3 linked regions of the Homo sapiens genome follow. The protein of the gene in region 2 interacts with the protein of the main gene of each other region in a pairwise test. Each region holds a gene or a part of one and is shown on either strand. Other genes may lie near its edges. The genes, in order: SUOX, MYO1B and POGZ.

Region 1 (9,439 bases), on a different chromosome or scaffold from region 2:
CGAGCCCTGCCCCGCGGGGAGGCAGCTAAGGCCCGGCGAGAAATCGAGCGCAGCGCTGGTGGGCCGGCACTGCTGGGGGACCCAGTACACCCTCCGCAGCTGCTGGCCCAGGTGGTAAGCCCCTCATTGCCCGGGGCCGGCAGGGCCAGCCGGCTGCTCCGTGTGCGGGGCCTGCCAAGCCCACGCCCACCCGGAACTCCAGCTGGCCCGCAAGCTCCGCGCTCAGCCCCGGTTCCCGCTCGCACCTCTCCCTCCACACCTCCCTGCAAGCTGAGGGAGCCGACTCTGGCCTTGGCCAGCCCAGAAAGGGGCTCCCACAGTGCAGCGGCGAGCTGAAGGGCTCCTCAAGTGCCGCCAAAGTGGGAGCCCAGGCAGAGGAGGCACCGAGAGTGAGCAAGGGCTGTGAGGACTGCCAGCACAATGTCACTTCTCACTAGGATTATAAGGGTGAGCCACCACACCCAGCTCTTTTATTACAGTATAATGTTATAATTTTTTTCTTTTTCTTTGTTTTTTTTTTGAGACGTTTGAGACGGAGTCTCACTCTGTCGCCCAGGCTGGAGTGCAGTGGCGCGATCTCGGCTCACTGCAACCTCCGCCTCCTGGGTTCACGCCATTCTCCTGTCTCCGGAGTAGCAGGGACTACAGGCGCCCGCCGCCAAGCCCGGCTAATTTTTTTTTTTCTATTTTTAGTAGAGATGAGGTTTCGCCGCGTTAGCCAGGATGGTTTCGATCTCCTGACATCGTGATCTGCCCGTCTCAGCCTCCCAAAGTGCTGGGATTACAGGCGTAAGCCACTGCGCCGGGCTAATTTTTCTATTTTGTTATTGTTGTTAATCTCTCTTTTTTTTTTTTTTTTTTTTTTTTGAGATGGAGTCTCTCTCTGTTGCCCAGACTGGAGAGCAGTGGCGTGATCTCAGCTCACTGCAACCTCCACCTCCCAGGTTCAGGTGATTCTCCTGCCTCAGCCTCCCGAGTAGCTGGGGTTACAGGCACGTGTCACCATGCCTGGCTTATTTTTGAATTTTTGTAGAGACAGGTTTTCCCCATTTTGGCCAGGCTGGTCTCAAACTCCTGACCTCAGGTGATTTGCCCGCCTCAGCCTCCCAAAGTGCTGGGATTACAGACGTGAGCCACTGCGCCGGGCATTGTTGTTAATCTCTTACTGTGGGTAATTTAGTAATTAAACTATAAGAGGTATGTATGTATGGGGGAAAAAACAGTAATATAGGGTTTGGTGCAATCTGTGGTTTCAAACATCTACTGGGGGTCGTAGAACATATCCCCAGTGGATAAGGGGGTACTACTGTACTTGTTGGCTCTTCATGTTAGCTCTGCTAGGCAGATGTCATTTCAGAGATGAGGAAGCAAGTTCAGAACGGCTTGGAATCTTGCTCAGGAAATCGGGCTGGTTAATGAATAACAAGAGATCCAGTTTCACAAACCCAAGGCATTTTGCCCCCAGAATCTGGGCTTCTTCACCCATTTAGGCTGTCACTACTTTTTTTTCACTTTTTTATCCCTGTTTAAGTCAGTCTGACCCACAGTTGTCCTCTGCTGACTTCAGAAATAATAATCTGGCCAGTAGACATTTGGTTTCGGTCCTTTAGGCCCTTCGCCCCAGGCATCGTTCTCTATGGTGGACAAAGTTCAGAATGGAAGATGGGAGAAAGGTGATTCTGATTCTAGAAGCACCCATCCCTCCTACCCCATTCCCCACCCGCATTACCTGCCATCCTGTCAGCACAGTCTGTCTCTGAAGTGCTCCAAGTTTTCTCTAAGGGCCCATTTGGACTCCCACTCTCAAGACTCCTCACTTGCCCAGAAAGCTCCTTGCTGACCTTCTCTGTGTCTTCCTCTCACCCATTCCCTTAGGCCTCCCTAATATCCCCTCCCAGGGTCTCCCTATCTTGATCCCAGAATCTTCCTTCTACAGGTCTGCTACAATGCTGCTGCTGCACAGAGCTGTGGTCCTCAGGCTCCAACAGGCCTGCAGGTAGGCCAGCCCATCCCAGGACTTGCCTCCTAGCCCCTATCTGCCACCCTTAGTGTCTTTTACAATGTCATACCTTGCAAATAAGACAGTTGAGAGAGTGTGTCCAGGGAGGACAGAGAAAGCCAGATCCCACTTTTCCCACCTATCCCTGGAGAAACTAAGTTCCAACTTAAGGAACCAATGGCCAACCAGGGAGAAAGAAGTAGACCCCAAGCCTTCACTAGCCCTTTCACATGACCATACGTGCTACTAAGACCGACCTCTCTTCCAGACTCAAGTCAATCCCCTCAAGGATCTGCATTCAGGCCTGCTCCACAAATGATTCATTTCAGCCCCAGCGCCCCAGCCTCACCTTCTCTGGTGATAACTCCAGCACCCAGGGATGGAGAGTCATGGGGACCCTATTAGGTCTCGGTGCAGTGTTGGCCTATCAGGACCATCGGTGTAGGGTAAGTAGGGAAAGTGCTTCATTGTCAGAACAGACTGGGTGCAGTGGCTCACGCCTGTTATCCCAGCACTATAGGAGGCCAAGGTGGGTGGGTCACTTGAGGTTAGGAGTTTGAGACCAGCCTGGGCAACATGGCAAAACCCCATCTCTAGTAAAAATTAGCCAGGTGTGGTGGTACATACCTGTAATCTCAGCTACTTGAGAGGCTGAGACACAAGAATCACTTAAACCCAGGAGGCTAAGTCTGCAGTGAGCCAAGATCAAGATCAGGCCACTGCTCTCCAGCCTGGGTGACAGAGTGAGACTCCATCTCAAAAAAAAAAAAAAAATTGTCAGAATAAAGGAATCAGTCCTAGTAAACTCCACAGGCAACCCAGGCTGTGACCCATGTTCTTGTAGTTACCACAGAGTTCACAGTGACGCAGTCTTCATGCACAGTGGAGATGAAATCTGCTAATCTGCTACCTTCGCTTCCCAGTGGCCAACACCGTGGGTTGGGTCAGGGTGAGCTCAAGTGATTTCTTCTTATTCTTCTTCATTTTTTCTTTTTTTTTTTTTTGAGATGGAGTTTCACTCTTGTTGCCCAGGCTGGAGTGCAATGGCATGATCTCAGCTCACCACAACCTCCACCTCCCGGGTTCAAGTGATTCTCCTGCCTCAGCCTCCCAAGTAGCTGGGATTACAGGCATGCACCACCATGCCCAGCTAATTTTGTATTTTTAGTAGAGACAGGGCTTCTCCATGTTGGTCAAGCTGGTCTTGAACTCCCGACCTTATGTGATCCGCCCACCTCGGCCTCCCAAAGTGCTGGGATTACAGTTGTGAGTCACCACGCCCGACCAAGTGATTTCTTCTTAATAGTCTCTTCCCTTTTATCTTACTCCTTCCCTGCCAATAGGCTGCTCAGGAGTCAACACACATATACACTAAGGAGGAAGTGAGTTCCCACACCAGCCCTGAGACTGGGATCTGGGTGACTCTGGGCTCTGAGGTCTTTGATGTCACAGAATTTGTGGACCTACATCCAGGGGGGCCTTCAAAGCTGATGCTAGCAGCTGGGGGTCCCCTAGAGCCCTTCTGGGCCCTCTATGCTGTTCACAACCAGTCCCATGTGCGTGAGTTACTGGCTCAGTACAAGATTGGGGAGCTGAATCCTGAAGACAAGGTAGCCCCCACCGTGGAGACCTCTGACCCTTATGCTGATGATCCTGTACGTCACCCAGCCCTGAAGGTCAACAGCCAGCGGCCCTTTAATGCAGAGCCTCCCCCTGAGCTGCTGACAGAAAACTACATCACACCCAACCCTATCTTCTTCACCCGGAACCATCTGCCTGTACCTAACCTGGATCCAGACACCTATCGCTTACACGTAGTAGGAGCACCTGGGGGTCAGTCACTGTCTCTTTCCCTGGATGACTTGCACAACTTTCCCAGGTACGAGATCACAGTCACTCTGCAGTGTGCCGGCAACCGACGCTCTGAGATGACTCAGGTCAAAGAAGTAAAAGGTCTGGAGTGGAGAACAGGAGCCATCAGCACTGCACGCTGGGCTGGGGCACGGCTCTGTGATGTGTTAGCCCAGGCTGGCCACCAACTCTGTGAAACTGAGGCCCACGTCTGCTTTGAGGGACTGGACTCAGACCCTACTGGGACTGCCTATGGAGCATCCATCCCTCTGGCTCGGGCCATGGACCCTGAAGCTGAGGTCCTGCTGGCATATGAGATGAATGGGCAGCCTCTGCCACGTGACCACGGCTTCCCTGTGCGTGTGGTGGTTCCTGGAGTGGTGGGTGCCCGCCATGTCAAATGGCTGGGCAGAGTGAGTGTGCAGCCAGAGGAAAGTTACAGCCACTGGCAACGGCGGGATTACAAAGGCTTCTCTCCATCTGTGGACTGGGAGACTGTAGATTTTGACTCTGCTCCATCCATTCAGGAACTTCCTGTCCAGTCGGCCATCACAGAGCCCCGGGATGGAGAGACTGTAGAATCAGGGGAGGTGACCATCAAGGGCTATGCATGGAGTGGTGGTGGCAGGGCTGTGATCCGGGTGGATGTGTCTCTGGATGGGGGCCTAACCTGGCAGGTGGCTAAGCTGGATGGAGAGGAACAGCGCCCCAGGAAGGCCTGGGCATGGCGTCTGTGGCAGTTGAAAGCCCCTGTGCCAGCTGGACAAAAGGAACTGAACATTGTTTGTAAGGCTGTGGATGATGGTTACAATGTGCAGCCAGACACCGTGGCCCCAATCTGGAACCTGCGAGGTGTTCTCAGCAATGCCTGGCATCGTGTCCATGTCTATGTCTCCCCATGAGCATGGAAAGGAGCCACCTCCACCCCTTTCCCCACCCATTAGCCTCACTGCTTCAGAAAAATCTTTCCCACCTTTCAACTTCTTGGATCACAACTCTGGCCTTCCTAAGCCATACCCAAGTACACATATAGCACATTTCACCCAAGGACCTTCCCTCTTTGGACACTATGTTACATACCCCTCTTGGCCTTTGAACCTGTGCCAGGAAGTGTGAGCTGTTACAGCAAGGGGCTAGAAGTGAAAAAAGTAATTCTGGAGACAAGCACTATTTTCTCTTCCTACCCCACCTCCATTTCTAATGCCTACTGCCATCAAGGCCTTGTTTTGCTTTTCTTTTTGGATTGTTCAGAGAAATGTGTGTGGCATGTGTAAGAAAAGTGTATATACTATCTTATACTACCTCTCCAGGTTGCCAGAGAGTTGCGAGGAGAGCAAGGGGCACAACCGTCTCCCTTTATAGTTCTACTTTTCTAATAAATAGTCTGTTTAAGATCATAACTCTTGGGCCTGGGGAGTGAGCCTATTGCAGGAGGAAGGATGCATTTGTACTGGGATGTATAATGAGATTAGACCAAAACAAACAAAACTGGGGAGGAAGACAGAGAGGAAGTAGGCTTGTAGGTTAAGAAGTAGGGCTTCCGGCTGAGCACAGTGGCTCACGCCTGTAATCCCAGCACTTGGGAGGCCAAGGCAGGTGGATCACTTGAGGTCAGGAGTTCGAGACCAGCCTGGCCAACATGGCAAAACCCAGTCTCTACCAAAAATACAAAAATTAGCTGGGTGTGGTGGTGGGTGCCTGTAATCCCAGCTACTTGGGAGGCTGAGGCAGGAGAATCGCTTGAACCAAGGAGGCAGAGGTTGCAGTGAGCCGAGATCACACCCACTACACCCCAGCCTGTGCGACAAAGCGAGATTCTGTCTCAAAAAAAGGGGGGCTTCCTTCTCTGAGGTTTGGCAGTATCTGCAGGGACACCTAGGTGATTGACCTCAGGATACCATGAAGAGAGGAGAGGTGACAAAAACATGTACCCTCCAACTCCTTTCCCCAACAGTTCCAATGCACTTGGCAGGAAAGGCAAAGGGTGCTAGGAGTTTAAAATCAATATTGTCTTAGGAGGTCGTGAAAGCAAAATAAATCTTGAGGCCCCAGAATCACTAAGCTAAAGGGAAAAGTCAAGCTGGGAACTGATTAGGGTAAACCTGCCTCCCATTCAAAGTCATCCCTCTGCTCACTGAGATAAATGCATACCTGATTGCCTTCTTTGAGTGGAATACAACCATTTGCCTCTTTTTTTTTTTTTTTTTTTGTAGAGACAGAGTCTTGCTCTGTCACCCAGACTGGAGTGCAGGAGTGCGGTGGCACGATCTCCGCTCACTGCAACCTCCGTCTCCGGAGTTCAAGCAATTCTGTCTCAGCCTCCCAGGTAGCTGGGACGACAGGCGCACACCGCCACGCCCGGCTAATTTCTTTTGTATTTTAGTAGAGATGGGTTTCACCATGTTGCCCAGGCTGGTCTCGAACTCCTGAGCTCAGGCAGTACGTCTGCCTCGGCCTCCCAAAGTGCTAGGATTACAGGCGTGAGCCACCAAGCCCGGCTTTTTTTTTTTTTTTTTTTTTTTTTTGAGATGAAGTCTCACTCTATTGCTCAGGCTGGAGTGCAGTGGTGCGATCTCGGCTCACTGCAACCTCCGCCTCCCGGGTTCAAGCGATTCTCCTGCCTCAGCCTCCCAAGTAGCTGGGACTACAGGCGCGGGCCACCACACCCGGCTAATTTTTTATTTTTAGTAGAGATGGGGTTTCACCATGTTGGCCAGGCTGGTCTTGAACTCCTGACCTCAGGTGATCCGCCCGCCTCGGCCTCCCAAAGTGCTGGGATTACAGGCGTGAGCCACTGCGCCCCGCTCCATTTACCTCTTATCTACCTATGACCTGGAAGCCTCCTCCCAGCTTGAGTTGTCCCGCCTTTACATATATTGATTGATGTCTCTTGTCTCCCTAAAATGTATAACACCAAGCTGTGCTCCAGTCACCTAGGGCACATGTCGTCAGGACCTCCTGAGGCTGCGTTACGGGCGTGCGTCCCTAACTTTGGCAAAATTAAGTTTTGCCAAAAACTTCCTAAACTGAGACCTGTCTCAGATTTTTGGGATTCACAAGGTACAGAGGGAAAACTTGGCTCTAGGGCCTGACGTGCCAGGCCACATCGGGCGTCCAGCGTGTGCTTAGATTGCAAACTGGGTGCAGATTAAAGGCTAGTTTTTGGGTTACCTTCGGCAGACGATGGTGCCTTTCGGATTTGAATCTTTCGGCGCTCGGCTACTCTCCCCTAGCTCCTCTCCCATTTTCCCCCAGCAGTCTCCCGGGCTTGGGGACGCTCGGTGTTCGGCCACGCCGCCTGTCGCCTGGTAGTGGGACCGGAAGTTGTTAGGGGGAGGGGGACGGCTGTGATGGGGGGGGATATTTGGGGGGGCAAGTCCCTTCTCAGGTGAAGCTGCTGATGGAGATGGAGCCGCCGCCACCGCCGCCTCTGAGCGCCCGGGTCCTGGCTCCGGCCCGGCGACTGCCGCCGCCTCAGTGACCCCACTCCCCCCGCACTGGGCCGCCCGGGCCAGAGTGGGGGACCCCCGCCCCCTCGCCTCCCTCTCCCCCAACACTGTCCCCTCTCCCCAACCCCTCACAGCCTGCGCGCGCGCGGAGACACCTCAGGTGAGTGAGGGGCGGGGCTTGGTGGGGGTAAAGCGGGGGCGGGGCCTCGGTAGCCGGGGGCGGGGCCTGAGGGGCTCTGGCGTGAAGGAGGGGGGAGACGTGGGCGGGGGAAGGGGCCAGGCTGAGAGAGGGTCGCGGGTTGGGCTGGGGCCGGAGGGTTGGAAGATGGCCGGGGGAGTTTGGCCCGAGGCCCCAGTATTAAGAGCGAGGTAGCAGGGACTCGGGGGTCCTAAAAAGGCGGGAGACAGATCAAGGCAAGGGGCCGAGGACAGGCAGGAGCTGCCAGGCGCGGGGCTCCTCCGTGGGGATGTGGCTTGGGTATACAGCAGAAGGACAGCGAGGAGAAAGGAGCAGCAAAGAGGGTATCTGAACAAAAAAAGCGAGGGACCCGGGTGTTGGGTCGAGGAATGCTGAAGACAGGAATCTGGGGATAAAGACGTAGGCCTAGGTGAGATCTGGGAGGCAATGAGCATATTGGGAGAAACATGTAGAGAAGAAACTTAGGATGGAGTGAGAAGTGCACAGTGTAGGGTGAGAGGTGTAGGGAACTTGGGAAGCAAGGCTGGGAAAGAAGAGATTCACTGCTTGAGAGCCCTAAGAAAGAAATGCAACAGAGGAATCCCCAGGGCAGACATCCAGACGGGAGCTGCAAACTTGGGAAGCAGGCTGCCTGCTCCTGTGTACCAAAACAGCCCTCCCTGTACCTCCTCACACAAACCCCATCCCGTTATTTTCTTACCTCATGGCTGCTAGAGTTGTAGGTTCTCACTTTTTAAATTTTCTATATTATTTCTGTGCCTTTAAAAAAAATTATGACTAGTCCTTTCTGGGAACAGTGGAGTGTTTAATGGAACGTGGACCTTTCGATATGCTTATGAAATATTGTACCCCAATCCCCATCCAAGGTCAAGAAGTTACGAACTCTGCTTCCAGGAAATTTTTTTTTTTTTTTTTTTTGAGACGGAGTTTCACTCTTGTTGCCCAGGCTGGGGTGCAATGGCGCGACCTCAGCTCACTGCAACCTCCATCTCCCAGGTTCAAGAGATTCTCCTGCCTCAGCCTCCCAAGTAGCTGGGATTACAGGCACCCGCCACCACCCCTGGCTAATTTTTTGTATTTTTAGTAGAGATGGGGGTCTCACCATGTTGGCCAGGCTGGTCTTGAACTCCTGACCTCAGGTGATCCACCCGCCTCAGCCTCCCAAAGTGCTGGGATTACAGGCATGAGCCACCGTGCCTGGCCAGAAAATTTTTTGCATACCTTATTTCGCCCCATTCCCTTCTCTCATGAACAAAACTGTCTATTGTTGTTACTCTTGTCAACCCTCGCTTATATGTCTAATAGTTCCTACTGTGCCTGTCTCCCCAGCCTGTGCCCTCGAAGCATCAATGGTGGGCATGGTATGTTCCTGACATGCTCACATGTCAGCTTTAGATGTTCCAACGTCATGGTCAACCAGATGACCATTGAAGCCTGTCTCCCCTTACTGATACTTGCTCACTTTGCCTGGGTGAAGATACATGTTCATATCCTTAAGGAAGCATGAAAATGTTATCTGACTACCTAGAATATTTCCACTTAACGATAACTCAGATTCTGAGGACAAGGCCAGATAAAAGGCCAAATCAGACAATCTTTGAAAGCATAGTGTTTCGTTTGGTTGGGGTGTATGGTAATCCCTCACCTCCCCATGGACCTGCCAGTAGGTCCGTGAATCTTGCTTTATGGTTTGCAGGAGGACTTCAGCTTTCCCTACTAACAGCCTAAAGCCAGAGAATCCAGACAGACCCTTGGGTCATGAGAACAGTCAGATGAGTAGCTCCTGAGATAAAAATAAAATCTTAAAAGAAGAAAATAGCTTTACCATTGGGAAGCAAGAGAAGTTTCACTGGAGCTTCTGGGGTGGGCTTCAGAATGGTGAGAGCTGCCCTCATTTTGGCAGCTTCAGAATTATACCTTGCCCTAGTCAATAGAAGTTGA
Region 2 (10,846 bases):
ACTTGAAGAAACATGCAGGTCTTTGAAGGAACCCCTCAGGGAGTAGATAAGAGTTTTGAAGAGACTAGGAACGAATGACTTTTTGAAGCAATTTATAGACCCAATGGCCCTGAGGGGAAAACGTTTGGGGCCTATGTGCTGTGTCAAGATTATCTCAGGTCCAGACTCAAGATCTATGGGAACTTTGTAGCACTCCCAGTCACTGAGAGGGGGGCTGGGGACAGATGAGGTTGGGGCCTGGCAAGAGGGCCCATAAGAATGTAAGACAAGCTTCTGCTCTCTTCTCTTACTCATATTGGCATGAATGGGTTTCAGGAAAAATACCCAGAGTATAGCATGTGTCTAATGGGAAGGATTATGCAGGCATCTTTATTTAGCAAAGGCCATGCTTGTCTTGGGGAGTTGGGTTGCTTGTCAACACCCTGACCTCCATGGTATGAGTCTTCCTCTGCATGAGATGGGCTGTGCTTTGGTGCTACTCTCTATAAACTTTTTCCAGCTTTATTCAAAGTTTAAGAACATCATTCCTGCAACTCCATCAGCAAGAACTGCTTTTGTCCTACCTTGCGCTCTGGAAAGTCTTTAATGAGATATCTGAAATTCTTGGCAGAGATTATAGGCTAACTTGATTTACCTAACATAATAATAACTCATGAAATTAGTTCCTCAATCTAACACTATTGAGTACTTTCTATGTTCTTAGGCTCTGAGAACACAATAGTGAACCAAACTCCACCCTCATGGAGTTTCTCATGTCGTACAGATGTCAAGATTGAGAATGCAGCTGAAATAATGGGCAACTAACCTTTTGCTTATATTTCTAATTTAAATTTTGGTTTATTCTGTCAATGGTCCCTAAACCTAGAGTTATGCCATTTTGGTTGTTAATACAATAGGATATTTTTGAGTTACACACAATTATCTTTCTCTACAGCATTTTCATATGCTAACACCTGTGATGAATGTATGCACCAGATCAAATATATGGATTTAGTTTTAGGGACTGAAGCAGAAACAGACTATTACGTCATATGTTTGCTAAATTACTTTTCATTTGGTATAGGTGGCCAATATTTTTTTTCCTTTGCCATAATATTTGCTTTTCCTTGCAGTACTCCTAGGGTCTCCCCAGCAATGAGGTGACAGCTCCCCAGTTATCATTAGAAAAATGAAAATGATTTTTTAAAAAGATTGGGAAAAAGTCTAGCCATTTTTCAGATTGATTTATTGTTTCACAGCTAGGTTTTGCCATCATAGTACTAACCTGCTGTAGCATGAGAAGAAATAAGAGACAACTATTTTACTAGTTGAAATGACAGAATGCTAAATTATAAAATGTCAAGGGAAAAAATTTAGGCAATTTAAATTTCCTGGCAATGGGTCTATAATTTATTTGTGGCTCAGAGTACTCTGAGCTGTAGAGAAATGCATTTTGTGGAGAAAAATTATACTTTTTCACTGCCTGATTTTAGTGCTCAAATTACATTTTTTTAAAATAAAGAATTGTTTTTGATTTTCAAATAGTCTAGTACAGTACCTAAAAGGGACCCTATTTGTGAGCTTTTCAAATTACTCTTTTTATCCTCAAATAGCTTTAGTAAATTTTCTCCCTGCCTGGGATAAGTTCCATCGGTCTTTTTACCTTCAAATATTCTTGATGTAATTTATCTATAGTTTGTTAAATACTTAGAATAAGAGTTGTGTTTTTACCATTGAGTTTTGGACACCGACAATGCTATAGAAACATTTTTTTTTGTAATACCTAATCTGAATTTCAAATAATACTTTAAACATGAAGCACTTATTTTTAAAGCACTCTTTAAATATATTTTAAAATATTTTATTTTGTATGAAGCTATTTAAGAAATAGCTAACTCAGTGCTTACTGCATTTGGAGGACTATCCTAAACTAAGAGACATATGCTAAAGAAATAATACAGTACACTTGACCCTTGAACAACTTGGAGATTAGGGACGCTGACCCTCCATGTAGTCAAAAATTCACGTATAACTTTTGACTCCCCAAAATTTAACTAGTAATAGCCTACTGTTGACATATCAGCCTTATGGATAACATAAATGGTCTATTAACACATATTTTATATTGTATCATATATTGTATTCTTACAAAAAAAGTAAGTTAGAGAAAAAGGAAATGTTATTAAGAAAATCATAAGAGAAAATATATTTGCTACTCATTAAGTGGAAATGGATCATCAAAGTCTTCATCCTCATCCTCTTCATGCTGAGTAGGCTGAAGAGGAGGAGGAAAAGGAGGAGTGGGTCTTGCTGTCTCAGGGGTAGCAGAGGTGGAAGAGGTGGAGGAGGTGGAAAGGAGGCAGGAGAGGCAGCCACACTCAGCGTAAGTTGCCTGCCTCAGCTTCACCATCTCTAAAATGGGATTATAATATAACCTACCTCGTTGGGCTGCTGTGCAGCTTCAACGAGTTAACACATATGTAGAGCATTTAGAATATTTCCTAGGATAGTCAGCTCTCTAAAACTGATGTTATCTCAGTCCTGGTGTTTTCGAACTGATTGACTAGTTTTATCTCGAGGCCTACTATCTAGTTGGAGAAGTCAAACATCCAGAAGAGGATGAATAAAAAGATTTCATGACCTGGGGCAAATTAATAGGTACTGAGAGGATGTGGCATTCAGATGCTACCATACGAAAGAAAGCAGAATCTAATTCAAGATGATGGTCAGGAATAGGTGAAAACCGAATTTAGTTTGAAAGGATAAGTAATGCCTGGGAATAGTGACCCACACCTGTGATCCTAGTGCTTTGGGAGGCCAAGACAGGAGTATCACTTGAGGCCAGGGGCTCAAGGCCAGCCTGGGGAACAATAGTGGGACTCCTATCTCTACAAAAAATACAAAGAAATTAGTCGGGTATGGTAACATGCACCTGTAGTCCCGGCTGCTTGGGAAGCTGAGGCAGGAGGATTGTGGGAGGATTGTTTGAGTTCAAGAGTTCAAGGTTACAGTGAGCTGTGATTGTGCCACTGCACTCCAGCCTGGGTGACAGAGCGAGATCCTGTCTTTATTTTATTTTTTAAAAAAAGATAAGTAAAGCAGGTGAAAACTGTTTGGGTGGGTAGATGAGAGACAAAATATAGCAAAAACAAAGACTGAGAATTTTAAAGATAGAGTCTTTAACACATTCAACATGATGTAAAATACCTAAGGACAAACAGTATGAGCCGCTTCATAAACTTAGTTGAATGAAGACAGAGCCAGTGAGAAAATCTAAAAGTATGACTTCCAGTCCACTTTTATGTTTGCTACACCAAAAGGCAGTCATATGGTTCTTTCGTCAGTCTTCTTGTCAATGTTGAACTCCTTTTAATTTTCTTGAAAGGGCTCAAGTAAAACCAACTAAGAAAAAATAAGTCTTACATGCCTAGTGGTAATTACCTTCCTGGGATACATAGAGATATGCTTTTACTTCTGTATTTTCCACAAGGATGGCAAGATTTCAATTGAATGAATTTAAATTGTTGCATGTTTCCATTGAGGCAAAGCACACTTCTTGTATTCTTTTATTGCACTCTTGTAATTTGATAATTTATGTTTTTCACCCTAAATCTCAATAATAGTTTTCTACTTCTTTTTATTTCTTTCTGTTTCCTCCAAATAGATTGAGGAGAAAGTAAAAAATGCCTTTGTAGTTGATGGATTTATTATCTATTCTTTTTTTTTTTTTTTTTTGAGATGGACTCTCGCTCTGTCACCCAGGCTGGAGTACACTGGCGTGATCTTGGCTCACTGCAACCTCCACCTCCTGGGTTCAAGTGATTCTTCTGCCTCAGCCTCCTGAGTAGCTGGGACTACAGGAGCGTGCCACCACGCCTGGCTAATTTTTGTATTTTTAGTAGAGATGGGATTTCACCATATTGGCCAGGCTGGTCTCGAACTCCTGACGTCATGATCCGCCTGCCACAGCCTCCCAAAGTGCTGGGATTACAGGTGTGAGCCACTGCGCCCAGCCTATTATCTATTCTTGACAATTGTGGGAATAACTTTAATCTGCTTTTTATAATTTCAAAAGTTGTTGATTGATTGGTTTTTGAAAAAAATGGCCAGGAAGGTAAAAGTGTTTTAAAACCTGTATGTCCTCAGAAACTTGGGTTTTGAGATTTATGAAAACTAGGTAAACAGTATTTTTAAAAGAGAAGCATGATTTTTCTCTAGAAATATTTTTGGCTAATAACTTGGTTCATTTTCTTAGTGTTTATTAGGATAAGTTCTACAGTTTCTATTATTTTCTTTTTTGAACTTGCTAAAATCATGGAGAAAGTCTTAATTGTCCTCACTATGCGAGGTCCTTCTAGAGGCCGAACTGTTCTGACATAACTGTGTCCTATCCCTTTCTTGAGTCAGGAGTTTCAAAACTTTACTTCTAGTAGCTAGCTATTTTGATAGACCTACTCAGCACATAGTTGTCTCAAACCTACTTTTTCTAAAATCTGGCCACCTTCCAAGATCAAAAGTTTATAGAATTCCCCCACTCTTCAATTTGTATACATCTTATATTCATGAACCTGCCATCTGCATTTCTGCTATTTTTGAAAAGCTGAACTGGACAGTAGAGGTCAGAAGTTCCATGAACTGCCAAACTGCTATAAGCAGTCACTTGGGAACCTAAACTCAGACAAGCAAAATGGAGAAGTGAGTCTAACACACGTCACCAGGTAGCAGGTTCATATGTTGCCTATTGTGAAGGCTGGGATCTCCAGGGTTTTCATTATGCTAGGTTATCAAGGTCTGAGGTAGTGTGCTTGATAGTGAAGACTATAGAGTCAGACTATCTGGGTTCAAATTCCAGCTCTGTCACTGTTCTAGGTGTCTATTGCTATGTAACAACCACCCAGATGACAATCTTTTATTATTATCACTTACGTTTCCGGGGCCTGATTTGGCTCAGCTAGGTTTTCTCTCTAGGTCTCTCAGGCAGCGTGGTCAGTGACTGTGGCTGGAGTTCTTTCAAAAGCTCGCCAACTCACATGCTTGATATAAGTTGTACTGGCAGTAGACCAGGTCCTCAGCTGGCACCATCAGCCCAAACACCTACACATGGCCTTCCCTGTGGCTTGAGCTTCCTCACAATATGGCAGCTGGGTTCCAAGGGTGAGTGTCCCAAGGGAGAGCCAGGTGAAAACTTCATCTCCTTTTATGACCTAGGTTTGGAAGTCACATAGCATCACATCTGCTGTATTCTATTTGTTACAATCAAATCACTAAGTCCAGACCATATTCAAAAGGAGGGCAATTAATATCCACTCTCTAATGGGAGTCTTCAAACCACCATAGCCATGTATTCCCTGAAGACCTCTCTGTCCTTGGCTTTGCTGGTCTGTAAAACAAGGATAATGAGAGAAACTTACCTCAGAGCTTTTTGTGAGGATTAAACAAAGAACAGTCCCTGGTACCCAGTATGTGTTAGTTTCGCCCATTATCACACCACTTGTACATCTGAAGTGATGCTGATGGTGACATCAATGATGAGACAGTTCCCAGCAGATATAGTCTGTGAAGGTCCCACCTTTCCAAACTCTACTAGTGGCATTTAACAAATCCCAGCGCCTGTGGTTCTTATGCCAGTGGGAACAGTTACTATATATGGTCTGAATTCTTTGGTTCACCTCACTTTAGTGACAGTTTCCAGATACAGGTCAGTCCATTTAAACCTGGCCCATTTATGGCAATTTATTTCATTATAGGATAAAGTAGTTAGAACCATGAGTAATAATTACTGTGTCTACAGTGCTTTTAACACCTCAGCCAAGTAATCCTCATCTCACCCAGTGAGTAAGTTTGAATGCGCACCCTTCCCTGTGCGAGGATGAAGAAACCAGGACCTGGGTCAAGAGGATTGTTCTAAATTCTCCAATGAGGCAATAGGGCTTGAGTGAGAAGGTGTGTGTGTGTGTGTAGGGGGGGTGTCCTGATTCTCTGGCCCCTACATGCCTGTATAATATACCCCATCACTGATCATTACTCAGGACCTGTTAATACACTCTATTCAAATACGTATGGGTATTTGAAATTTCTTTTAAACTACCTCTCATGTATTTATAACACAAAGAATTGGCCAGTGTCTATTTCCCACAATGTGAGATTAAGTAATTTAAAAGATACTAAAAGTCTTGTAAATGAAGACACACCACACCACTCAGTATAATTTTTTTCTTTTTCTGTGAAACTAATATTTTCTGATATTCTCGGCATCCAAAAATTTTCATCTTGGGGAGGAGGAAAAATTGAGACTTACTCCCACTGTTTGCCGGAATGTGACCCCAGGCTGGCTTCGAGTTGTCAAATGTTGTATTTCTCATTTTATGTCAGTGAGTCTGGAAGCAAAAAAGGTAGAAAGACTGCCTTCCGTGGGGGCCGCGACGATCGCCCCTCCTTCCCTCAAGCCTCGTCCCATCCAGGCTCGCCCCGGGTGCGGAGGGTCGGGCCGCAAACCCGCAAGGCGCGGAGGCCGCCGCGACGCTCACCGGGGGGCGCTGTGAAGCCGGCACCGGGCGGACAGAGGTGAGTCGGCTCGGAGGCGGTGGCTCCCGTTCCTGCCCGCGCGCCGAGGGGCGAATCCCAGGCAGCGAGGTCGCCGCCCCCGCCCCTCGGCCGGCCCCTCCGCCAGCGGGCGAGAGGGGAGTGGCCGGGCTCCTCCCGCCGCCGCTGAGCACTCCGCAGCTGGGTGCGCACGGGAGCCTCAACCGCGGCGCGTGGAGGCAGTACCAGAGCGCGCGGCGCGCAGTCGGCCGGCAGCCGCGGGACAGCCTTGGCAGAACAGCCGCGGCGGGAGCCCCGCAGCCCCGGGCTGGGCCCGCGTCCCGGAGCGCCACCGGAGAGCGAGGACGACGTGGAGGCGGAGTGGCGCCCGGCGAGGTAGCGCCAGGCGAGGTAGCGCGAGCGCTTTCTCTCTCTCTCCCCTGCCCTTCCCTCTGCGTCCGTCGTCGGCCCCCGAGGCGCCTGCTCCGCGCCTTTGTGCCCGCGGTCCCTGGCCCCGTCGCACCCTGCGGGCGGGGGTCAGCGGGCTCTGCCGCTCTCTTGGGAGACGCGGCGCTGCGGCGGGAACGGCGCACGCTGTAGGTTGCGGAGGGTGGTCGTGACTCCGCAGTGGCTTCGGGGGTGGCGGGAGGGAAGAAGGGCTTGTAAACTAAGTTGCTCTTACTTTGCCCCATGCCTCTCGTACCTGTGGGCAGAGTCGAATCTCGGCTGTCCTCGTGTTCACCCACAGCCCCTCCATTCCTCTGGCCCACAGCTGTTTCCTGGCCCCCTGGAAAGACACGGTGTGGCTTCCTCCGGGCAGGAAAGCGGAGGGAGAACAATGGGGCGTCCTGGGGAGTGGGGTTCAGGTGCGGTGTGCCCCGGCGGCGGCGGGGGAGGAGGGGCCCGGGACGCTGTGGGCCTCCCTGCGCGTGCAGCTGCGCTCGCCTCCTTTGTTCCGCCGCAGCGGAGGGGGTTGCCCTGGGTCTCGTTTCCTGCCCGGGATGGGATTGATTCACGGTCCCAGAGAGGGAAGGGGAAGGGGGCGGGGCTGGAATGGAAACCAGATTAGAGACGGGAGCTACGAAGGGTGGTGGGGCCGGGAAGAGAGTTGGGGAGAGGGTTGGGAGAGGGTGATGAGAGCGCGCTGGAGAGGTAACTACAAACACACAACATTTTGTTCAAGGGCCATGTGAGTTTCTAGAGCTTATTTGTAGTGCTTTGTTCAGGCTTCGGCCCAGCGTTTATTGCTGCAACAAGTTGTGTGCTTCTTGAGTTTCTAGGCGTTCCCAATGTTAGATTGCTCAAAGCAAATCTTCTTAGTTACAGTGAAAGAAGCCCCCCCCCCTTTTTTTTTGAGATTTGAAAAAATTTTGCTATGAACTATGGTATTGGTGTGTATGTGTGTGCCTCTGGGTCTGTGTGTGTAGCTAGTGGATATTGGCTGGAATGGGTAGGAGACAAATTTTATAGAATCAATTTTGACGTAAAATTGTTTTATAGTATAATATAGTACAACAGTTTTCCAGGACTGTTTGAGGGCAGAAACCACCAGAAAATTAGACATTGCTATAAATAAATGAATCAGACTATGTAACACAATTGAAAAACCCTTTTACAGTCTGTCCCAGGAAACACACCACACACACCAGCGTTTGGGGTTTGAACTGAGGAGCCCTGGCATTGAAGTGTTCTGTGCTTTCACTCTCTGTGTGAGGATCGTTTAGAGGTGGTAGAATTAAATGTAATGTGTCAGACATTTGTTAAGTGACCTTTCCTAGATTGGAATCGAGACTCGCCAAAGGATTGGCTGACCTAGGGAGGGAGCTATGGGGGATTGAATGATGTGTGTTTTTTGAATGGGGTATTCCAAGCAAAACTGTTTTGGGAGGAGGCTGACATTTCCAGGCATTCATGGTTTGTGCCTGTGGGACACTGGTGGGAGGATTCCCAAAGTCGGACTGAAGGTTAGCATTACTGTGGTGATAATTTAGGAGACATTCTGTTGTAGTAGTCTGGCTGCAGACAGGGCTGGGAAGTGGCCCAGAGCTGCCTCTTTGACAAGCTGAGGGTCCGCCATTAAACCACCCCTTTGGCCATTTATTTTGAGATGAACCAAGTTTGAAAGCCTCTTAACCTTAGAAGGCTAATTAGGAGCTTGCTGTGGGGGAAAAAAATATCTCCTGCCCACTAAGTGGTAATGGAAAAGAGCTGTATAAGCTACTGCTGAGGGTTTGTCTTTTTCGTGGGGGATGTGGTCAAATTTTCAGGCCAGGCTGAAAAGCACTGGGAGTTGTCCTCAGGAGCCATTATGATGTGAAGTTGAAATGGGATGGTGTCCAACTGTCAAGCTGTTTGTCATTAGAACTAACACACTGCCTGGCAAAACGTTGTGCTAGGGCAGCTAACAGAGGGAGACTTTTTGTTGTTGTTGTCTTACCATTTTGGACTTTTCACTTATGCTGTGAATTGTTTTATAAAATACAACACGATTGAATTCCTCTCAAGTACTCATTGTTCTATACATTAACAAAATGTAAAGCATCTGAACATTGCTGCTACTGGAGATGTGGACAGATAGCAGAATCCTAAGTGGCTGGTCTCTGGTCTCTGGCCTCTGGCCGTTCTGGTGGATGCCTGATTGTGTGATAAGGCTGGCAACAGGCTGTATCCCCTTCCCAGGATGAATCATCACTTTGTCAAGCCTGGAGTTAAAGACTAACTTACCCTGATTGCTGCACAGTTATGCAAAGCAAGGAGGAACGTCTGACATCATGGGGAAGAAGAGGGAGTGAGGTGAGTGGGTGGTGTTTGGCTAAGAAGGGATCTTCAGCATGTAGCATCCATGTTTTTAGCATTTGTCCTCCTTTGGGTAAGATTGTCTTCTACCTCCCTTCTACTGTTTTCAATAGCTGAACATTTGGATTTTAATTAAATAGCCTAACAATAATTATAGCTATCATTTAGTATGTGTTCATTACATGCCAAGAATTTTACATACATTACTATATTCATCATCACAACAACTTGATAAAGTGGGTGTTATCTTCATTTTCCAGTGGAAACTGAGGCCTGGAGGAGTTAAGTAACTTGCCCCTTACACCGTACAGATGCTCCTAGATTTACAATGGGGTTATGTCCTGATAAACCCATCATAAGTTGAAAATATTGTAAGTTGAAAATGCATTTAATACACTTAATCTACCGAACCTTAAATGTGTCCAGAACAGTCACATTAGCCTACAGTTGGGCAAAATCGTCTGGTAACACAGTCCACTGTAGAGTATTGGTTGTTCATCCTTGTGATGGTGTAGCTGACTGGGAGCTGCGGCTCGCTGCCACTGCCCAGCATTGTGATGGGGTATCGTACTACATGTGGCTAGCCCCAGAAAACATCACAATTCAAAATTCTAAGTATGATTTCCACTGAATGCCTATCATTTTTGCACCATTATAGAGTAAAAAAATCCTAAGTTGAACCATTGTAAATTGAGGACCCTCTGTGCTTGTGTAGCTAACTACTAAGTGGTGGAAGTGCGATTGGGGATCCCAAAGTCCATACTCTTTAGGTATATACTGTATGGTATGATGTATTTTAATAATAACAACAGTTTGATTATCTAGTTGGTTAGCCCCTGGCAGATGTCAAATTACTTTCACGTCTATTATTGTAGTTGATTCTTCCAAAAACCACTGTGAGATAGGTTTGGAAGCCCAGGTTAGGACATTACAACTCTTAGAACTGTATTGCTAAAGAGCTGTATGTTATGGCCTGTATGAATAAGCTGTAAGTGAATGAAACTTTACTTTTAAAAAGTTAGGTTGCCAACATTTAAAAATAAGTTCTTTTTTCGAAACATTTAAAAGTGGTAGAACAGAGTAGATCTTATATTGCACTCAAGGCTTTTATGTTTATTGAAATCCATTTTAAGCCCTTTTTATCTTACAGCCTTTAATAGAACATTGCACTTTGCTTCTTAACTGAGACCCGATGCCAGAGTGTCTTTTTAAGAAGAGAAATAAGGAGGGAAGGAATGTGCTTATAAAGAGGAAGTGGGACATCAGAATTGGAAACACTCGCAGCAGCAGGCCATAGATTTTTCCCAGCACATGCTTTTTGTCCTGGCAGTAGCCTTTTACAGAAGGCATTCTTCCTTAGGGAAGTGTCAAGGGTCTTTCTTTACAGTATCCTCTGAGATCATCAAATTTCTGAGCTCTGTGGGAACACTCATTCCACATGATTTTTGTGCTCATCCCTTCCCCACAGGGGAAGTGAACTAGTTTAGGCATCTGCATGAAAAGGGAATAGCAGTGGTATCTGTCCTTAGGGTGGCACTGAGAGTGGCAC
Region 3 (10,689 bases), on a different chromosome or scaffold from region 2:
TCATAAGAGACTCAAAAATTAAGTCAGGGAAACCAAGAGAAAAAAGATCAATGAGGGTCTACATTGTTTCTTTTCCATAAGGAAAAACTTATCTTCCCTCTGTGTAATTTTATTATTTGTGGAACTTCGGAATAACAAAACCCACCCCCCATATTACGCGTAAAAATGAGTTAGGTGCCCAGACTGGGCAACACAGCAAGACCCTGTCTCTACCCCCAAGAAAAGGAATAAATTAGCTGGGTGTGGTGGCATATGCCTACAGTCCCAGCTACTCAGGAGGCTGAGGTGGGAGGACTGCTTGAGCCCAGGGGTTCGAGGCTGCAGTGAGCTAAGATTGCGTCACTGCACCCCAGCCTGGGTGGCAGAGCAAGACCCTGTTGTCTCAAAAAACTGGTGTTTTCACTAAGAGGTATGGATGAGTTACTCTGGCTTCACATTACTGACAGTGAAGAATCGTGAGTCCTATTCTAGACCAAGCTGGCTACCCTGGCACTACACTGCAGTGTTACCATTGATTCTTTGTTTTTTGAGACAGAGTCTTGCTCTGTTATCCAAGCTGGAGTGCAGTGGCGTGATCATGGTTCACTCTAGCCTTGACCTACTGGGCTCAAGCAATCCTCCCACCTCTACCTCCTGAGTAGCTACGACTATAGGCGTGCGCCACCACACCCAATTTTTGTATTTTTTTTGTAGAGACGGGGTTTCTCCATGCTGCCCAGGCTGGTCTTGAACTCCTAAGCTCAATCTGCCTGCCTCGGCCTCTCAAAGTGCTGAGATTACAGGTGTGAACCACTGCACCTGGCCCGGTTGATTCTAATATACATTCTACTCCCAAATGATTAGTCCAAAGTTTCACTGTCTAATATGGTGGCACCAGCAACATGTATCTAGTGAACACTTAAAATGTGGTAAGCTCAAACCCAATTTAGATTTGTATTTCAAAAGATCTGTTTTTTAATGGAGGAAAAAAGAATGACGAATATCTCATTAATTTTAAATTTTGAGTTCATGTTGAAATATTTTTAATATACTGAATAAAATATGCTGTTAAAATTAATTTTGCCTGTTTTTTTAAACTTTACAGTAGACGCCCTTTGCCAATGGGAAATATACGTTCCAAGACCCCCAGTGCATACATGAAACCTCAGATAGTATTGAACCCTATACATACCGTGTTTTTTCATATATATATATATATATACCTATGATAAAGTTTAATTTATAAATTAGGCAAAGAGATTAACAATTAAAAATATATAATATATAAAAGGATAATTATAACAATATACTGTAATAAAAGTTATGTGAATGTGGTGTCTCTCTCAATAATCTTATTGTACTGCACTCACCTAGTTTTGGACTGTGATTGAGACTAAAATTGAGGATAAGGGAGCGCTACTGTATTTAAAGTGAAAAAAATTAAAATTACTCATGAAGCTTGCATATTTCTACTGCCTAGTGTTACTGTAAGCCATTAATGTCAATCCCACTTCCCTTGCCAATAAATGGTCAGAGATATAAAAGGAAAGCAATTCTCACTCATAAGAAAACAGATTCAAGAAAGAAAAATTGAGGATAAGGGAGCGCTACTGTATTTAAAGTGAAAAAAATTAAAATTACTCATGAAGCTTGCGTATTTCTACTGCCTAGTGTTACTGTAAGCCATTAATGTCAATCCCACTTCCCTTGCCAATAAATGGTCAAAGAGATATAAAAGGAAAGCAATTCTCACTCATAAGAAAACAGATTCAAGAAAGAAAGATGGGAAGATAAGATCTCTTCTTTGTCTAACAATTTTTTATCTGGACATAGTGCCTGACACTTATACAGCCACCCTGCTATGAGCCAGAGACAAGAGAATTGTTGAAAACCAGCAGGGCAGTCAAATTCTAGGCTGAAGCATCCATTTCTGTATCTCTCAGTTAAATGATATAACAGATATTCTTATTGTTTTCTTTTGTTTTGAGACAGAGACTCGCTCTGTCATCCAGGCTGGAGTGCAGTGGTGCGATCTCAGCTCACTGCAACCTCTACCTCCTGGGATCAAGTGATTCTCATGCCTTGGCTTCCTGAGTAGTTGGGATTACCTGCGCACACCACCACAGCCAGCGAATTTTTGTATTTTTAGTAGAGATGTGGTTTTGCCATGTTGGCCAGACTGGTCTCCCCTGGCCTCAACTGATCCACCCACCTAAGCCTCCCAAAGTGCTGGGATTACAGGTGTGAGCCACCACACCCAGTCCTTATTGTTTAATTCATTTTTAGTTAAGGATTTTTACTTGTAGCAAATGCATCCAGATAATATGCATATGTCTTCTATGCTTTTGATCATGCTGTTTTCAATCACCTAAAAGCTTTTCTTACTACTCTCCATCCATCTAAACCTTTCTTAAATTTAAGCACGACTTTCTTGGAAACCTAGCCACAAGGATTTTTTCCCTTCTCTGAAGTATTTCACCTATCAATGATATCTTAAAATGTCTATGTTTATAATATACTATCTTGTTCTCACATTTTCCTATATTTACATAATTTTTGTCTTTACAACAAAACTGGAAATCCCGTAAAGGACATGAGAAGTATTCTCAATACTGGGCTTAAATCCTCACTATGTATCCCCAGTAGAGGTGTATTTAGAGGTGTACGCTCATAAGCAAATGACTCAATTTCTTTGAGCTTATGTTCAGCCTACATCTATCTATAAAATGTACAGTGTAGAAAAACATTCCAGCTTACCTTATATTTCACTGAAAGCACTGTCTTAATGATAAAGTACTTCATAATATTATCTTTTTTTTTTTGGAGATGGAGTTTTGCTCTTGTTGCCCAGACTGGAGTGCAATGGCATGATCTCAGCTCACTGCAACCTCCGCCTCCCGGGTTCAAGCGATTCTCCTGTCTCAGCCTCCCGAGTAGCTGGGATTACAGGTGCCCGCCACCACACCCAGCTAATTTTTGCATTTTTAGTAGAGATGGGGCTTCGCCATGTTGGCCGGGCTGGTCTCGAATTCCTGACTTCAGGTGATCTGCCTGCTTCGGCCTCCCAAAGTGTTGGGATTACAGGCGTGAGCCACCGTGCCCGGCCATATTATCTTTTATCCTACTTAATTTCTTTGAGCTTATGTCCAGCCTACATGTATAAAATATACAGTGTAGAAAACACTCCAGCTCATCTTATATTTCATTGAAAGCAATGTCTTAATGATAAAGTACTTCACAATATTATCTTTTAGCCTACATAAAACCTATCAGGGTTTAACTAAAGTGGAAGAGCAAATAGATGACTGTTCCTTCTATAAAGAGACCTAAGAAATAAATTAATTACATTTGTTTTTCTACAGTGGTTCTGAATCAACGCCCCTAACAATTCAGGATCTAACACTGAACTCAATCCATGCTTGAACAAAATAAAAGTCAGGCTTGTAAAAAAAAACAAGGTGAATGAAGTAAAGAACTGGCTACAAATATGAAAAGTACTTCCTCTACACTGTTACCCACATGTAAATAAATATAATGGGCTCCCCCCAGCGCCATTCAATGAGTGAACAGCAAGGTATATTCCCCTTGAGTTTAAGAGTTTCCAAACTTACTAGTAGATTCATAGGGACTATGAACATTTTCCAAGTGGCACTGAAGCTGGAAGGGAGTGGAAAACTGGCGGTAACAGTGCTGGCAGATAGTGTGACCATCTACCTCACCGTTCTGCTGATCGAGTTCTACGTGGTGTTTCATATGGTTCATGAATCTGTAATAAAGCACAAAGAGAAAGTACAGAAAACATAAAAAATTGGTAGCCTTTTAGAAATATAATGGTAAAATCACAGAACAAACATTATCTGCTCCCCTCCATTCCCCAGACTTCCTGTTTGGGATATCCTTTTCTGAGCCCAGAAAGATAATGAGTTCTTGAAACTAAGAGAGTTCTGGGAAAGGAGACATACTGCTTTCCCTTACTCGATCCAGTTACCTTTTGTTTATTACCACAATATCTCCTTCTATAGTCCTAGTTATTGATTTAATGATAACCCCAGCAAGACTGCATAGTAGTTAGGTCCATTCTCCAAAGAGAAAGACTTAAAATATATAAGAAAATGTAAGTCTTCTCTTGTTCAAGGTAACTTCCAAGGCTCTTAAACACTTACCGAATATTGTTTTTTAGCCTTTTGGTACAATGTGGGCATCGGAAAGATGTGGCGACCTTAGGGAAATTTGTGAGCTGGGCTACTTTGCCACCATCCCGTCCATAGTAGAAGTCATCTACAAGCATAATGAGTTTGGTCTGGACGGCATCGCCCACGTTCTCATTTGGTTCTGGTACTTTGGTAGGCGGTGACAGAGCAGGAATAGGTGTAGAAGAGGGTGTGGAAGCAACAGGAGCTGTTTTCTCAGGGGATGGGGGCTTTGCTGCTGATGGGACACTGGGTTCTGAATCCAGGGACTTTCCTTTCTTCTGGTATTCAACCATTTCTGGGCAACAGTACTATAAAGAAAGACATCTGATCATTCTGGTTATCCTGGGGGCTAGAATGTGCTAACTCCTTAACTTCACTACCATTCCTTGTTAACGGTTTGGTTTCAGGTATTCTCATTCAGCTTTCACCCTTCAGTTTTTTTTAGCGTTTCCAAGTTTTACTCCTTTTCTAGAGTATATCCACATATGCCACCCAAGCGCTATACTTTGTATTTCTCCCTCCTGCCTGTCTTAGGTCCCTTAATCATTAGTATAACTTGGCTCTGAGCTCCCTGGCAAAGAAGAAGTTCCAACCTTTTTATCTGGACTAATACCAAAAAATGAAAAGCTAAAAAATGGAAGTAAGAGCTCCCGATTCATCCAATGACACAATTAACAAAAATGAACTGAGGCCAATATGGTTTGAGTCCTTATTATCTATAAACCTGTTCTCCTGTGTGGTTTCAAAATCTACCACACTAAGAAAGTAAGATCACATATGTTCTGATCTATTTGAGGGTCTTTAAATGTATCCCATCACATTCCAAAGTACACAGCTCTTCTAAAAACAGACCAAGAGAAACAGTAACCCTTTAAAAAGCTTCAGTCATTTTAGAGCCCCTGCTTACAAGCTTCCAATATTAATGAAGGTAAATGGCAGAAGCCACTTAAGCTGGATCACAGGTGATATCACTTACACACATGTGACCTCTCAAAGCTTCAGTAACACGAAATTGAGCATTACATCGTGGACATATTTTCCGTCCACCATCCTGGAGGTCAAATACTGGGATGGAAGAGGTCACTGAAAGAAGTGAGAAGAATTGATAAGATTAATACAATGACACTGGAAAAAGATTACTGACCTTTTGGGAAAAAGTCAAACACTCCCTGAGAAGTATATAAAAGGGTAAGCAAGCATGAGAGATCACTATGGTTTTTGTTTGTTTTTGTTTTTTTTGAGACACGGTCTCTCAGTCTGTTGCCCAGGCTGGAGTGCAGTGGCACGACCACAGCTCACTGCAGCCTTGACCTCCCTGGGCTCAAGATCACTATGTTTGAGGCTTCCTTTTACTGTTCTAACTCTAGGCCAGGGGTCAGCAAACCACAGCACACAGATCAAATCCAGCCCAGCTACCAGTTTCTGTTTGGCCCATAAGCTAAGAATAATTTGTATGTGATTTTTTTGTTAAGGTTTTTGTTTTTTTTAATCTTGCAGAACTGAAGCTATATCCAATAAAAACCTCCTCACCATTCTCCCCTCGCCTCCACCCCGGCAACCACAATTCAACTTTGTCTCTATGAATTTGACTACTCTAGGTACCTCAAGTAAGTGGAATCATATGGTACTTGTCCTTTTGTGACTAGCCTATTTCACTTTAACATAATGTCCTCAAGGTTCAACCATGTTGCAGCACATGTTGTAGCAGAATTTCCTTTCTTAAGCCTGAACAATATACCATTGTATGTGAATACCACATTTTATTTATCCCTTTATCAGTTGATGGACCTCTGTGTTGCTTTCACCTTTCAGCTATTGTGAATAATGTTGCAATGAACATAGGTGTACAAATACCTGTTCTAGTCCCTGCTTTCAATTCTTTTGGGTATAGAATGGAATTCCTGGAGCATACAACAATTCTATCATTTTTAACTTTTTGAGGAACCACCATACTGTTTCCAAAGTGGCTGCATAATTTTACATTTCCACCAACAGTGCGTAAGGGTTCTGCTTTCTCCACATCCTCAACAATATTTGTTATTTTATGGTTCTTTGATAGTAGCCATCCTAATGGGAGTGAGACGGTACCTCATTGTGGTTTTGATTTGCATTTCCATAATGATTAATAACACTGAGCACCTTTTCATGAGCTTATTGGCAATAACTTTCTTTGGAGAAAGGTCTATTCAGTCCTTTGCCTACTTTCCTACTTTTTTTTTTTTTTTTGAGATGGGGTCTTTCTCTGTTGCCCAGACTGGAGTGCAGTGGCACAATCTCGACTCACCACAACCTCTGCCTTCCAGGTTCAAGCAATTCTTGTGTCTCAGCCTCCCGAGCAGCTGGGAATACAGGCACACACCACCACGCCTGGCTAATTTTTGTATTTTTAGTATAGACGGGGTTTCACCATTATTGGTCAGGCTGGTCTTGGACTCCTGACCTCGTGATCCACCTGCCTTGGCCTCTCAAAGTGCTGGGATTACAGGCATGAACCACCACGACCAGCGAGTCCTTTGTCTATTTTTTAAAAAGGTTGTTTGGGAGTTTTTTTGTTGTTGAACTGCACAAATTCTTTATATATTCTGGATATTAACCCCTTATTAGATACATAATTTGCAAATATTTTCTCCCATTCTGTGGCTTCCCTTTTCACTGTGTTGACAACGTCCTGCACAAAAGTTTTAAATTTTGATATAATTTAATTTACTCATTTTTTCTTTTCTTGCGTATGCTTTTGGTGTCATATCCAAGAAATAGTAATCACTGTCAAATCCAGTATCATGAAGCTTTTTGTCCTATAATTTTTCTAAGAGTCTTATAGTTTTAGTTCATTTAGGTCTTTGATCCATTTTGAGTTAATTTTTGTATTTATTGTAAGGTAAGATCCAACTTCTTTTGGACATGGATATCTAGTTTTCCCAACACCATGTTTTAAAGGTTTTTACTTTTTTTGAGACAGGGTGTCGTTCTGTTGCAGTGGCATGCTCATGGCTCACTGCAGGCTCAACCTTCTGGGTTCAAGCCCAAGCCATCCTCTCACCTCAGACTTCTGAGTAGCGAGGACTGCAGACATACACCACCACGCCTGGCTAATCTTTTTTTTTTTTTTTTTTGTAGAGATGGGATCTCACCATGTTGCCCAGGCTGGTCTCAAACTCCTAGGCTCAAGTGATCCTCCCGTCTTGGCCTCCCATAATGCTGGGATGAGGTGTGAGCCACTATACCTTGCGGTTTTTATTTTTAAATGGTTGAAATAAAAGAATAAAACTTTTCGACACATGAAAATTTTATGAAACTTAAATTTCAGAGTCCATAAATAGTTTTTAGTGGAGCACAGCCATGCTCATTCGTTTATGTATCTGTGGCTGCTTCCCCACCACAACAGCACAGTTAATAGCTGCAACAGAGGCTATATATTGTGCACAAAGCCTACAACTTTACTACTAGGCCCTTTACAGAAAACATTTGCCGACCCCTGCTCTAGACCACTGAAAACCCTCATGCTCATCATTCTCAACCTGAAGATCTCTCTACCAAATCCTAACTTTAAAACCTTGCTCAGAAATCCATCTCTTCCATGAAGTTATCTTTCATTATCTCACCCATCTTTAATCAATCAATTTCACTAATCTCCAAAGCACAATTACACACATAATTTCTTGGAGCTGATTCAGTTACACTTTTTGTAAGTGGCTTTCTCCTTACTAAAGTTTCTGTAAGAACAAACTACAGCAGCTGTATTTTATTTTATTTTTCTATTTCTGAGTATAAAGCTCTGATACAACAAACACTTTATTAATGTTTTTGAATGACTGGCTGCTCAGAGTCTTTCAGGTTATTGTACCTTTCATTGAAGACTCAGGTCCGCTGGTTCTTTGAGAGCCATGAGCAGAGCTGTTGTTGGACACCACCACTGGCCCAGGACTCTGGCCCAGGGAAGGGATGGTGTTAAGGGTATTCACCAATTTGGCCACTTCATTGCTATTTTCGCCTGTAACACCAGGTCGCTTCACAGTGACAAAGCTGGCAATGCTCACTGCAGGTGGAGAGGGGAAGGAGGGAGCTACGGTGACCAAGTGATAATCATCTGTTCTCCACCCACCATCCCAACCTGGCTCTGCCATCTCCTCTTCCGAAGCCTTACCTAGCTTGGGATTCGTGGTCTGGTTTGACTGGCCTGGAGACTGAACAGCTAGTTGCCCCAGTGAGGTTGGCTGTGTGGCAGTGGGAGTGGTAGAAGTGCTGGGAGTGGACTTGGTCTGCTGGGACTGGGACTGTGGGACGGTGCTTCGAATGGTAAGAGTGGCCGGGATGACGGTGGTGAAGGTGTTGGTGGTGGGCCTCACAGGCATTGTGGAGCCTGGCCTCACAGGGGTCATCTGGGAGAACACTTGTGGAACTCCAACTGTCGGCTTAACAAACTGGGTACCTGGGGCTTTAAAAGAGAGACAAAGTACCAGATCTTGGTCAGTGAGCTCACCTATAACACATTCTCCCTGCCTTTACTGGAAAGATTATTTCCCCAAACTGATGGATGATCATCAGAGGTTTCCAAGAGGAGTATAGATTCTAAAGACTAAGAAAGCACAAGGTGTCCATGTTGACAAAATAACCTGGGCAGCCTAAAAACATTAAGTTAAATAAGACTCCCATCAACTCCTCCTAAAACACCTTATCACACTGCCTTTTTAATTCTAAGAATACAATCAGTGGCTTGACCTCGGTACTGGAAGAAAAGAGTGGGAAGCAATATGGGTGTATATAGGCCAAATGGCAAACCTGGTCCTGAAAAAAGAAATCAGTCTTTCTCAGAGTACTAAAGGAGTCTTCCATCCTCTTCTATCAACTCAGAAGACAGACTATGCCATTCTACTAGGATGTCCCAAAGAGGAATGTCTCCTGGCTCAACTGTAGACAATTCCACTGAGAAAAATAAAGAAATGCCAGGGTAAGCTGGTCAGACTTAAACCCCTATGGGCTACGAGAACAAAAAACAAAACCTTAGGAAGACAAGCTACAGAGGTACCCTTACAAATAGCTAAATTAAGATACTCTTTTTTGGTCTGAATTGTAGTAAACTTATACATGCTAAATAGAGCAATGGAAAATTCTAAGATTTTAAAAAAATTATCCTTCTCAGAATCTTAAAAAAAAAAAAAACTATCTAGCAGAATCTTAAAAAAAAAAACTATCTAGTCATTGACAGTATTTATCCATAAAAGGAATGTCATTTGTTTATATCTAAAATCTATGCTATAAAATTAAAACAAAGTTTATAATCCCACCGTGCAAATGAGGAGATGTGTAAGGAGTGTAGAATTTATGAGTTTGCATTAATAACATAGTCTTAATAGCTGACTAAATACCAGTTACAGAAAAATGACTGTAAACTCTGTTTTACTACTTGATGAAGGGTGGTGAAAAGCTAAACAGAAATAAATAAAACCACCACCCTGGCCAAAGGTTAGAAGCAGATTTTTTAAAATTGGGCTTAAATCATTAATATTTTTATATTTTTAGATTTTCTTTAAATGTACTTACTAAATGACTTAGGATATTTAGAACAATAAAAACAAATCTTCTGGATGCCAGTTTATTCCAAATGGATAGACATTTTTCCTTACCTGGAACTAGTGTAATTGGTCTAACCGTTTGGCCTTGCTGTACGTTCAGCACAATCCCAACCTGATTCATTGCATTTTGTACAGGCCGGACATTCCTTACAGGAAATCCCTGTATTAAAAAGCAAAATGATCTTTAACATGGAGACCAATTAACACTGACAAAGATTGCAGTATGACCTACATCCAAAAAAAAATTCCCATACTCTTACTTAATGGTTCTTTCTCTAGAATTAGAGGTTTCAAATGACTGAGAGGGAAAAATTTAGGAAATTCTGGCAAACTTTTGAGAGACAAAATATCAAAATTAGAGAACAAGCTTTGGTACACATGAGCAAAAATGAAAACCTATTTCCTGACTTAAGAGAGCATCGGCTTAAAAAAACCTCATCAACAGACTGGCTCCCTAAAGTGCTAAATGAACAGAAGTGGGGGTGGGGGGCAGGGGGAAGAGCAATGTTCACTGGAGTGATTCAACATACAAACAATCCTAAAAAATTGTTCCCAAAGTCTACTTCAAAGGCCATAAACCTTTGGCAAATTCATAAGAATTTACAACTCAGGAAGCCACAGGCAAAGAGAAGCATTTGCCTTTAGAATCCATATTCAGAATTAGGCTTTCAACTTCAATTCAACACATTATATATCAAATAAGTCATCTTCCTTGTCTCCCAAAGGTCTCCATGAACTCCACCAATTACATACATACATCTCCAAAAGTTAACTAATTCATCCCATGTGAAGAGGAGCAGTCCACGCAAAGGGTGAAAAGCCTCAAGAGCCAAGCGTTAAGGCTTCCTAATTCAAGTTTTCCCACTATTTCTGCCTAGACTTTAATCAAATCACTTAATAAACTTCTAAGGGGTTTAAAGAAGATATTACCCAGCCATACTATG

The links.
Region 1: the proteins of MYO1B (region 2) and SUOX interact in binary tests that used the Homo sapiens proteins (3 or more experiments, as listed by UniProt).
Region 3: the proteins of MYO1B (region 2) and POGZ interact in binary tests that used the Homo sapiens proteins (3 or more experiments, as listed by UniProt).

What each region holds. Positions count from the first base shown.
Region 1 is NC_000012.12:56,000,276-56,009,714, forward strand, and holds the end of SUOX (sulfite oxidase, mitochondrial), read left to right. Parts: intron 1-1,936; 5' UTR 1,937-1,946; coding exon 1,947-1,996; intron 1,997-2,267; coding exon 2,268-2,445; intron 2,446-3,342; coding exon 3,343-4,752; 3' UTR 4,753-5,250; downstream 5,251-9,439. UniProt on the Homo sapiens protein: Catalyzes the oxidation of sulfite to sulfate, the terminal reaction in the oxidative degradation of sulfur-containing amino acids.
Region 2 is NC_000002.12:191,238,715-191,249,560, forward strand, and holds the start of MYO1B (unconventional myosin-Ib), read left to right. Parts: upstream 1-6,689; 5' UTR 6,690-6,912; intron 6,913-7,204; exon of another isoform or gene 7,205-7,461; intron 7,462-7,569; exon of another isoform or gene 7,570-7,653; intron 7,654-9,180; exon of another isoform or gene 9,181-9,243; coding exon of another isoform or gene 9,244-9,294; intron 9,295-10,846. UniProt on the Homo sapiens protein: Motor protein that may participate in process critical to neuronal development and function such as cell migration, neurite outgrowth and vesicular transport.
Region 3 is NC_000001.11:151,419,807-151,430,495, forward strand, and holds part of POGZ (pogo transposable element with ZNF domain), read right to left. Parts: intron 9,906-10,689; coding exon 9,797-9,905; intron 8,608-9,796; coding exon 8,317-8,607; intron 8,236-8,316; coding exon 8,017-8,235; intron 5,256-8,016; coding exon 5,149-5,255; intron 4,481-5,148; coding exon 4,143-4,480; intron 3,746-4,142; coding exon 3,591-3,745; intron 1-3,590. UniProt on the Homo sapiens protein: Plays a role in mitotic cell cycle progression and is involved in kinetochore assembly and mitotic sister chromatid cohesion.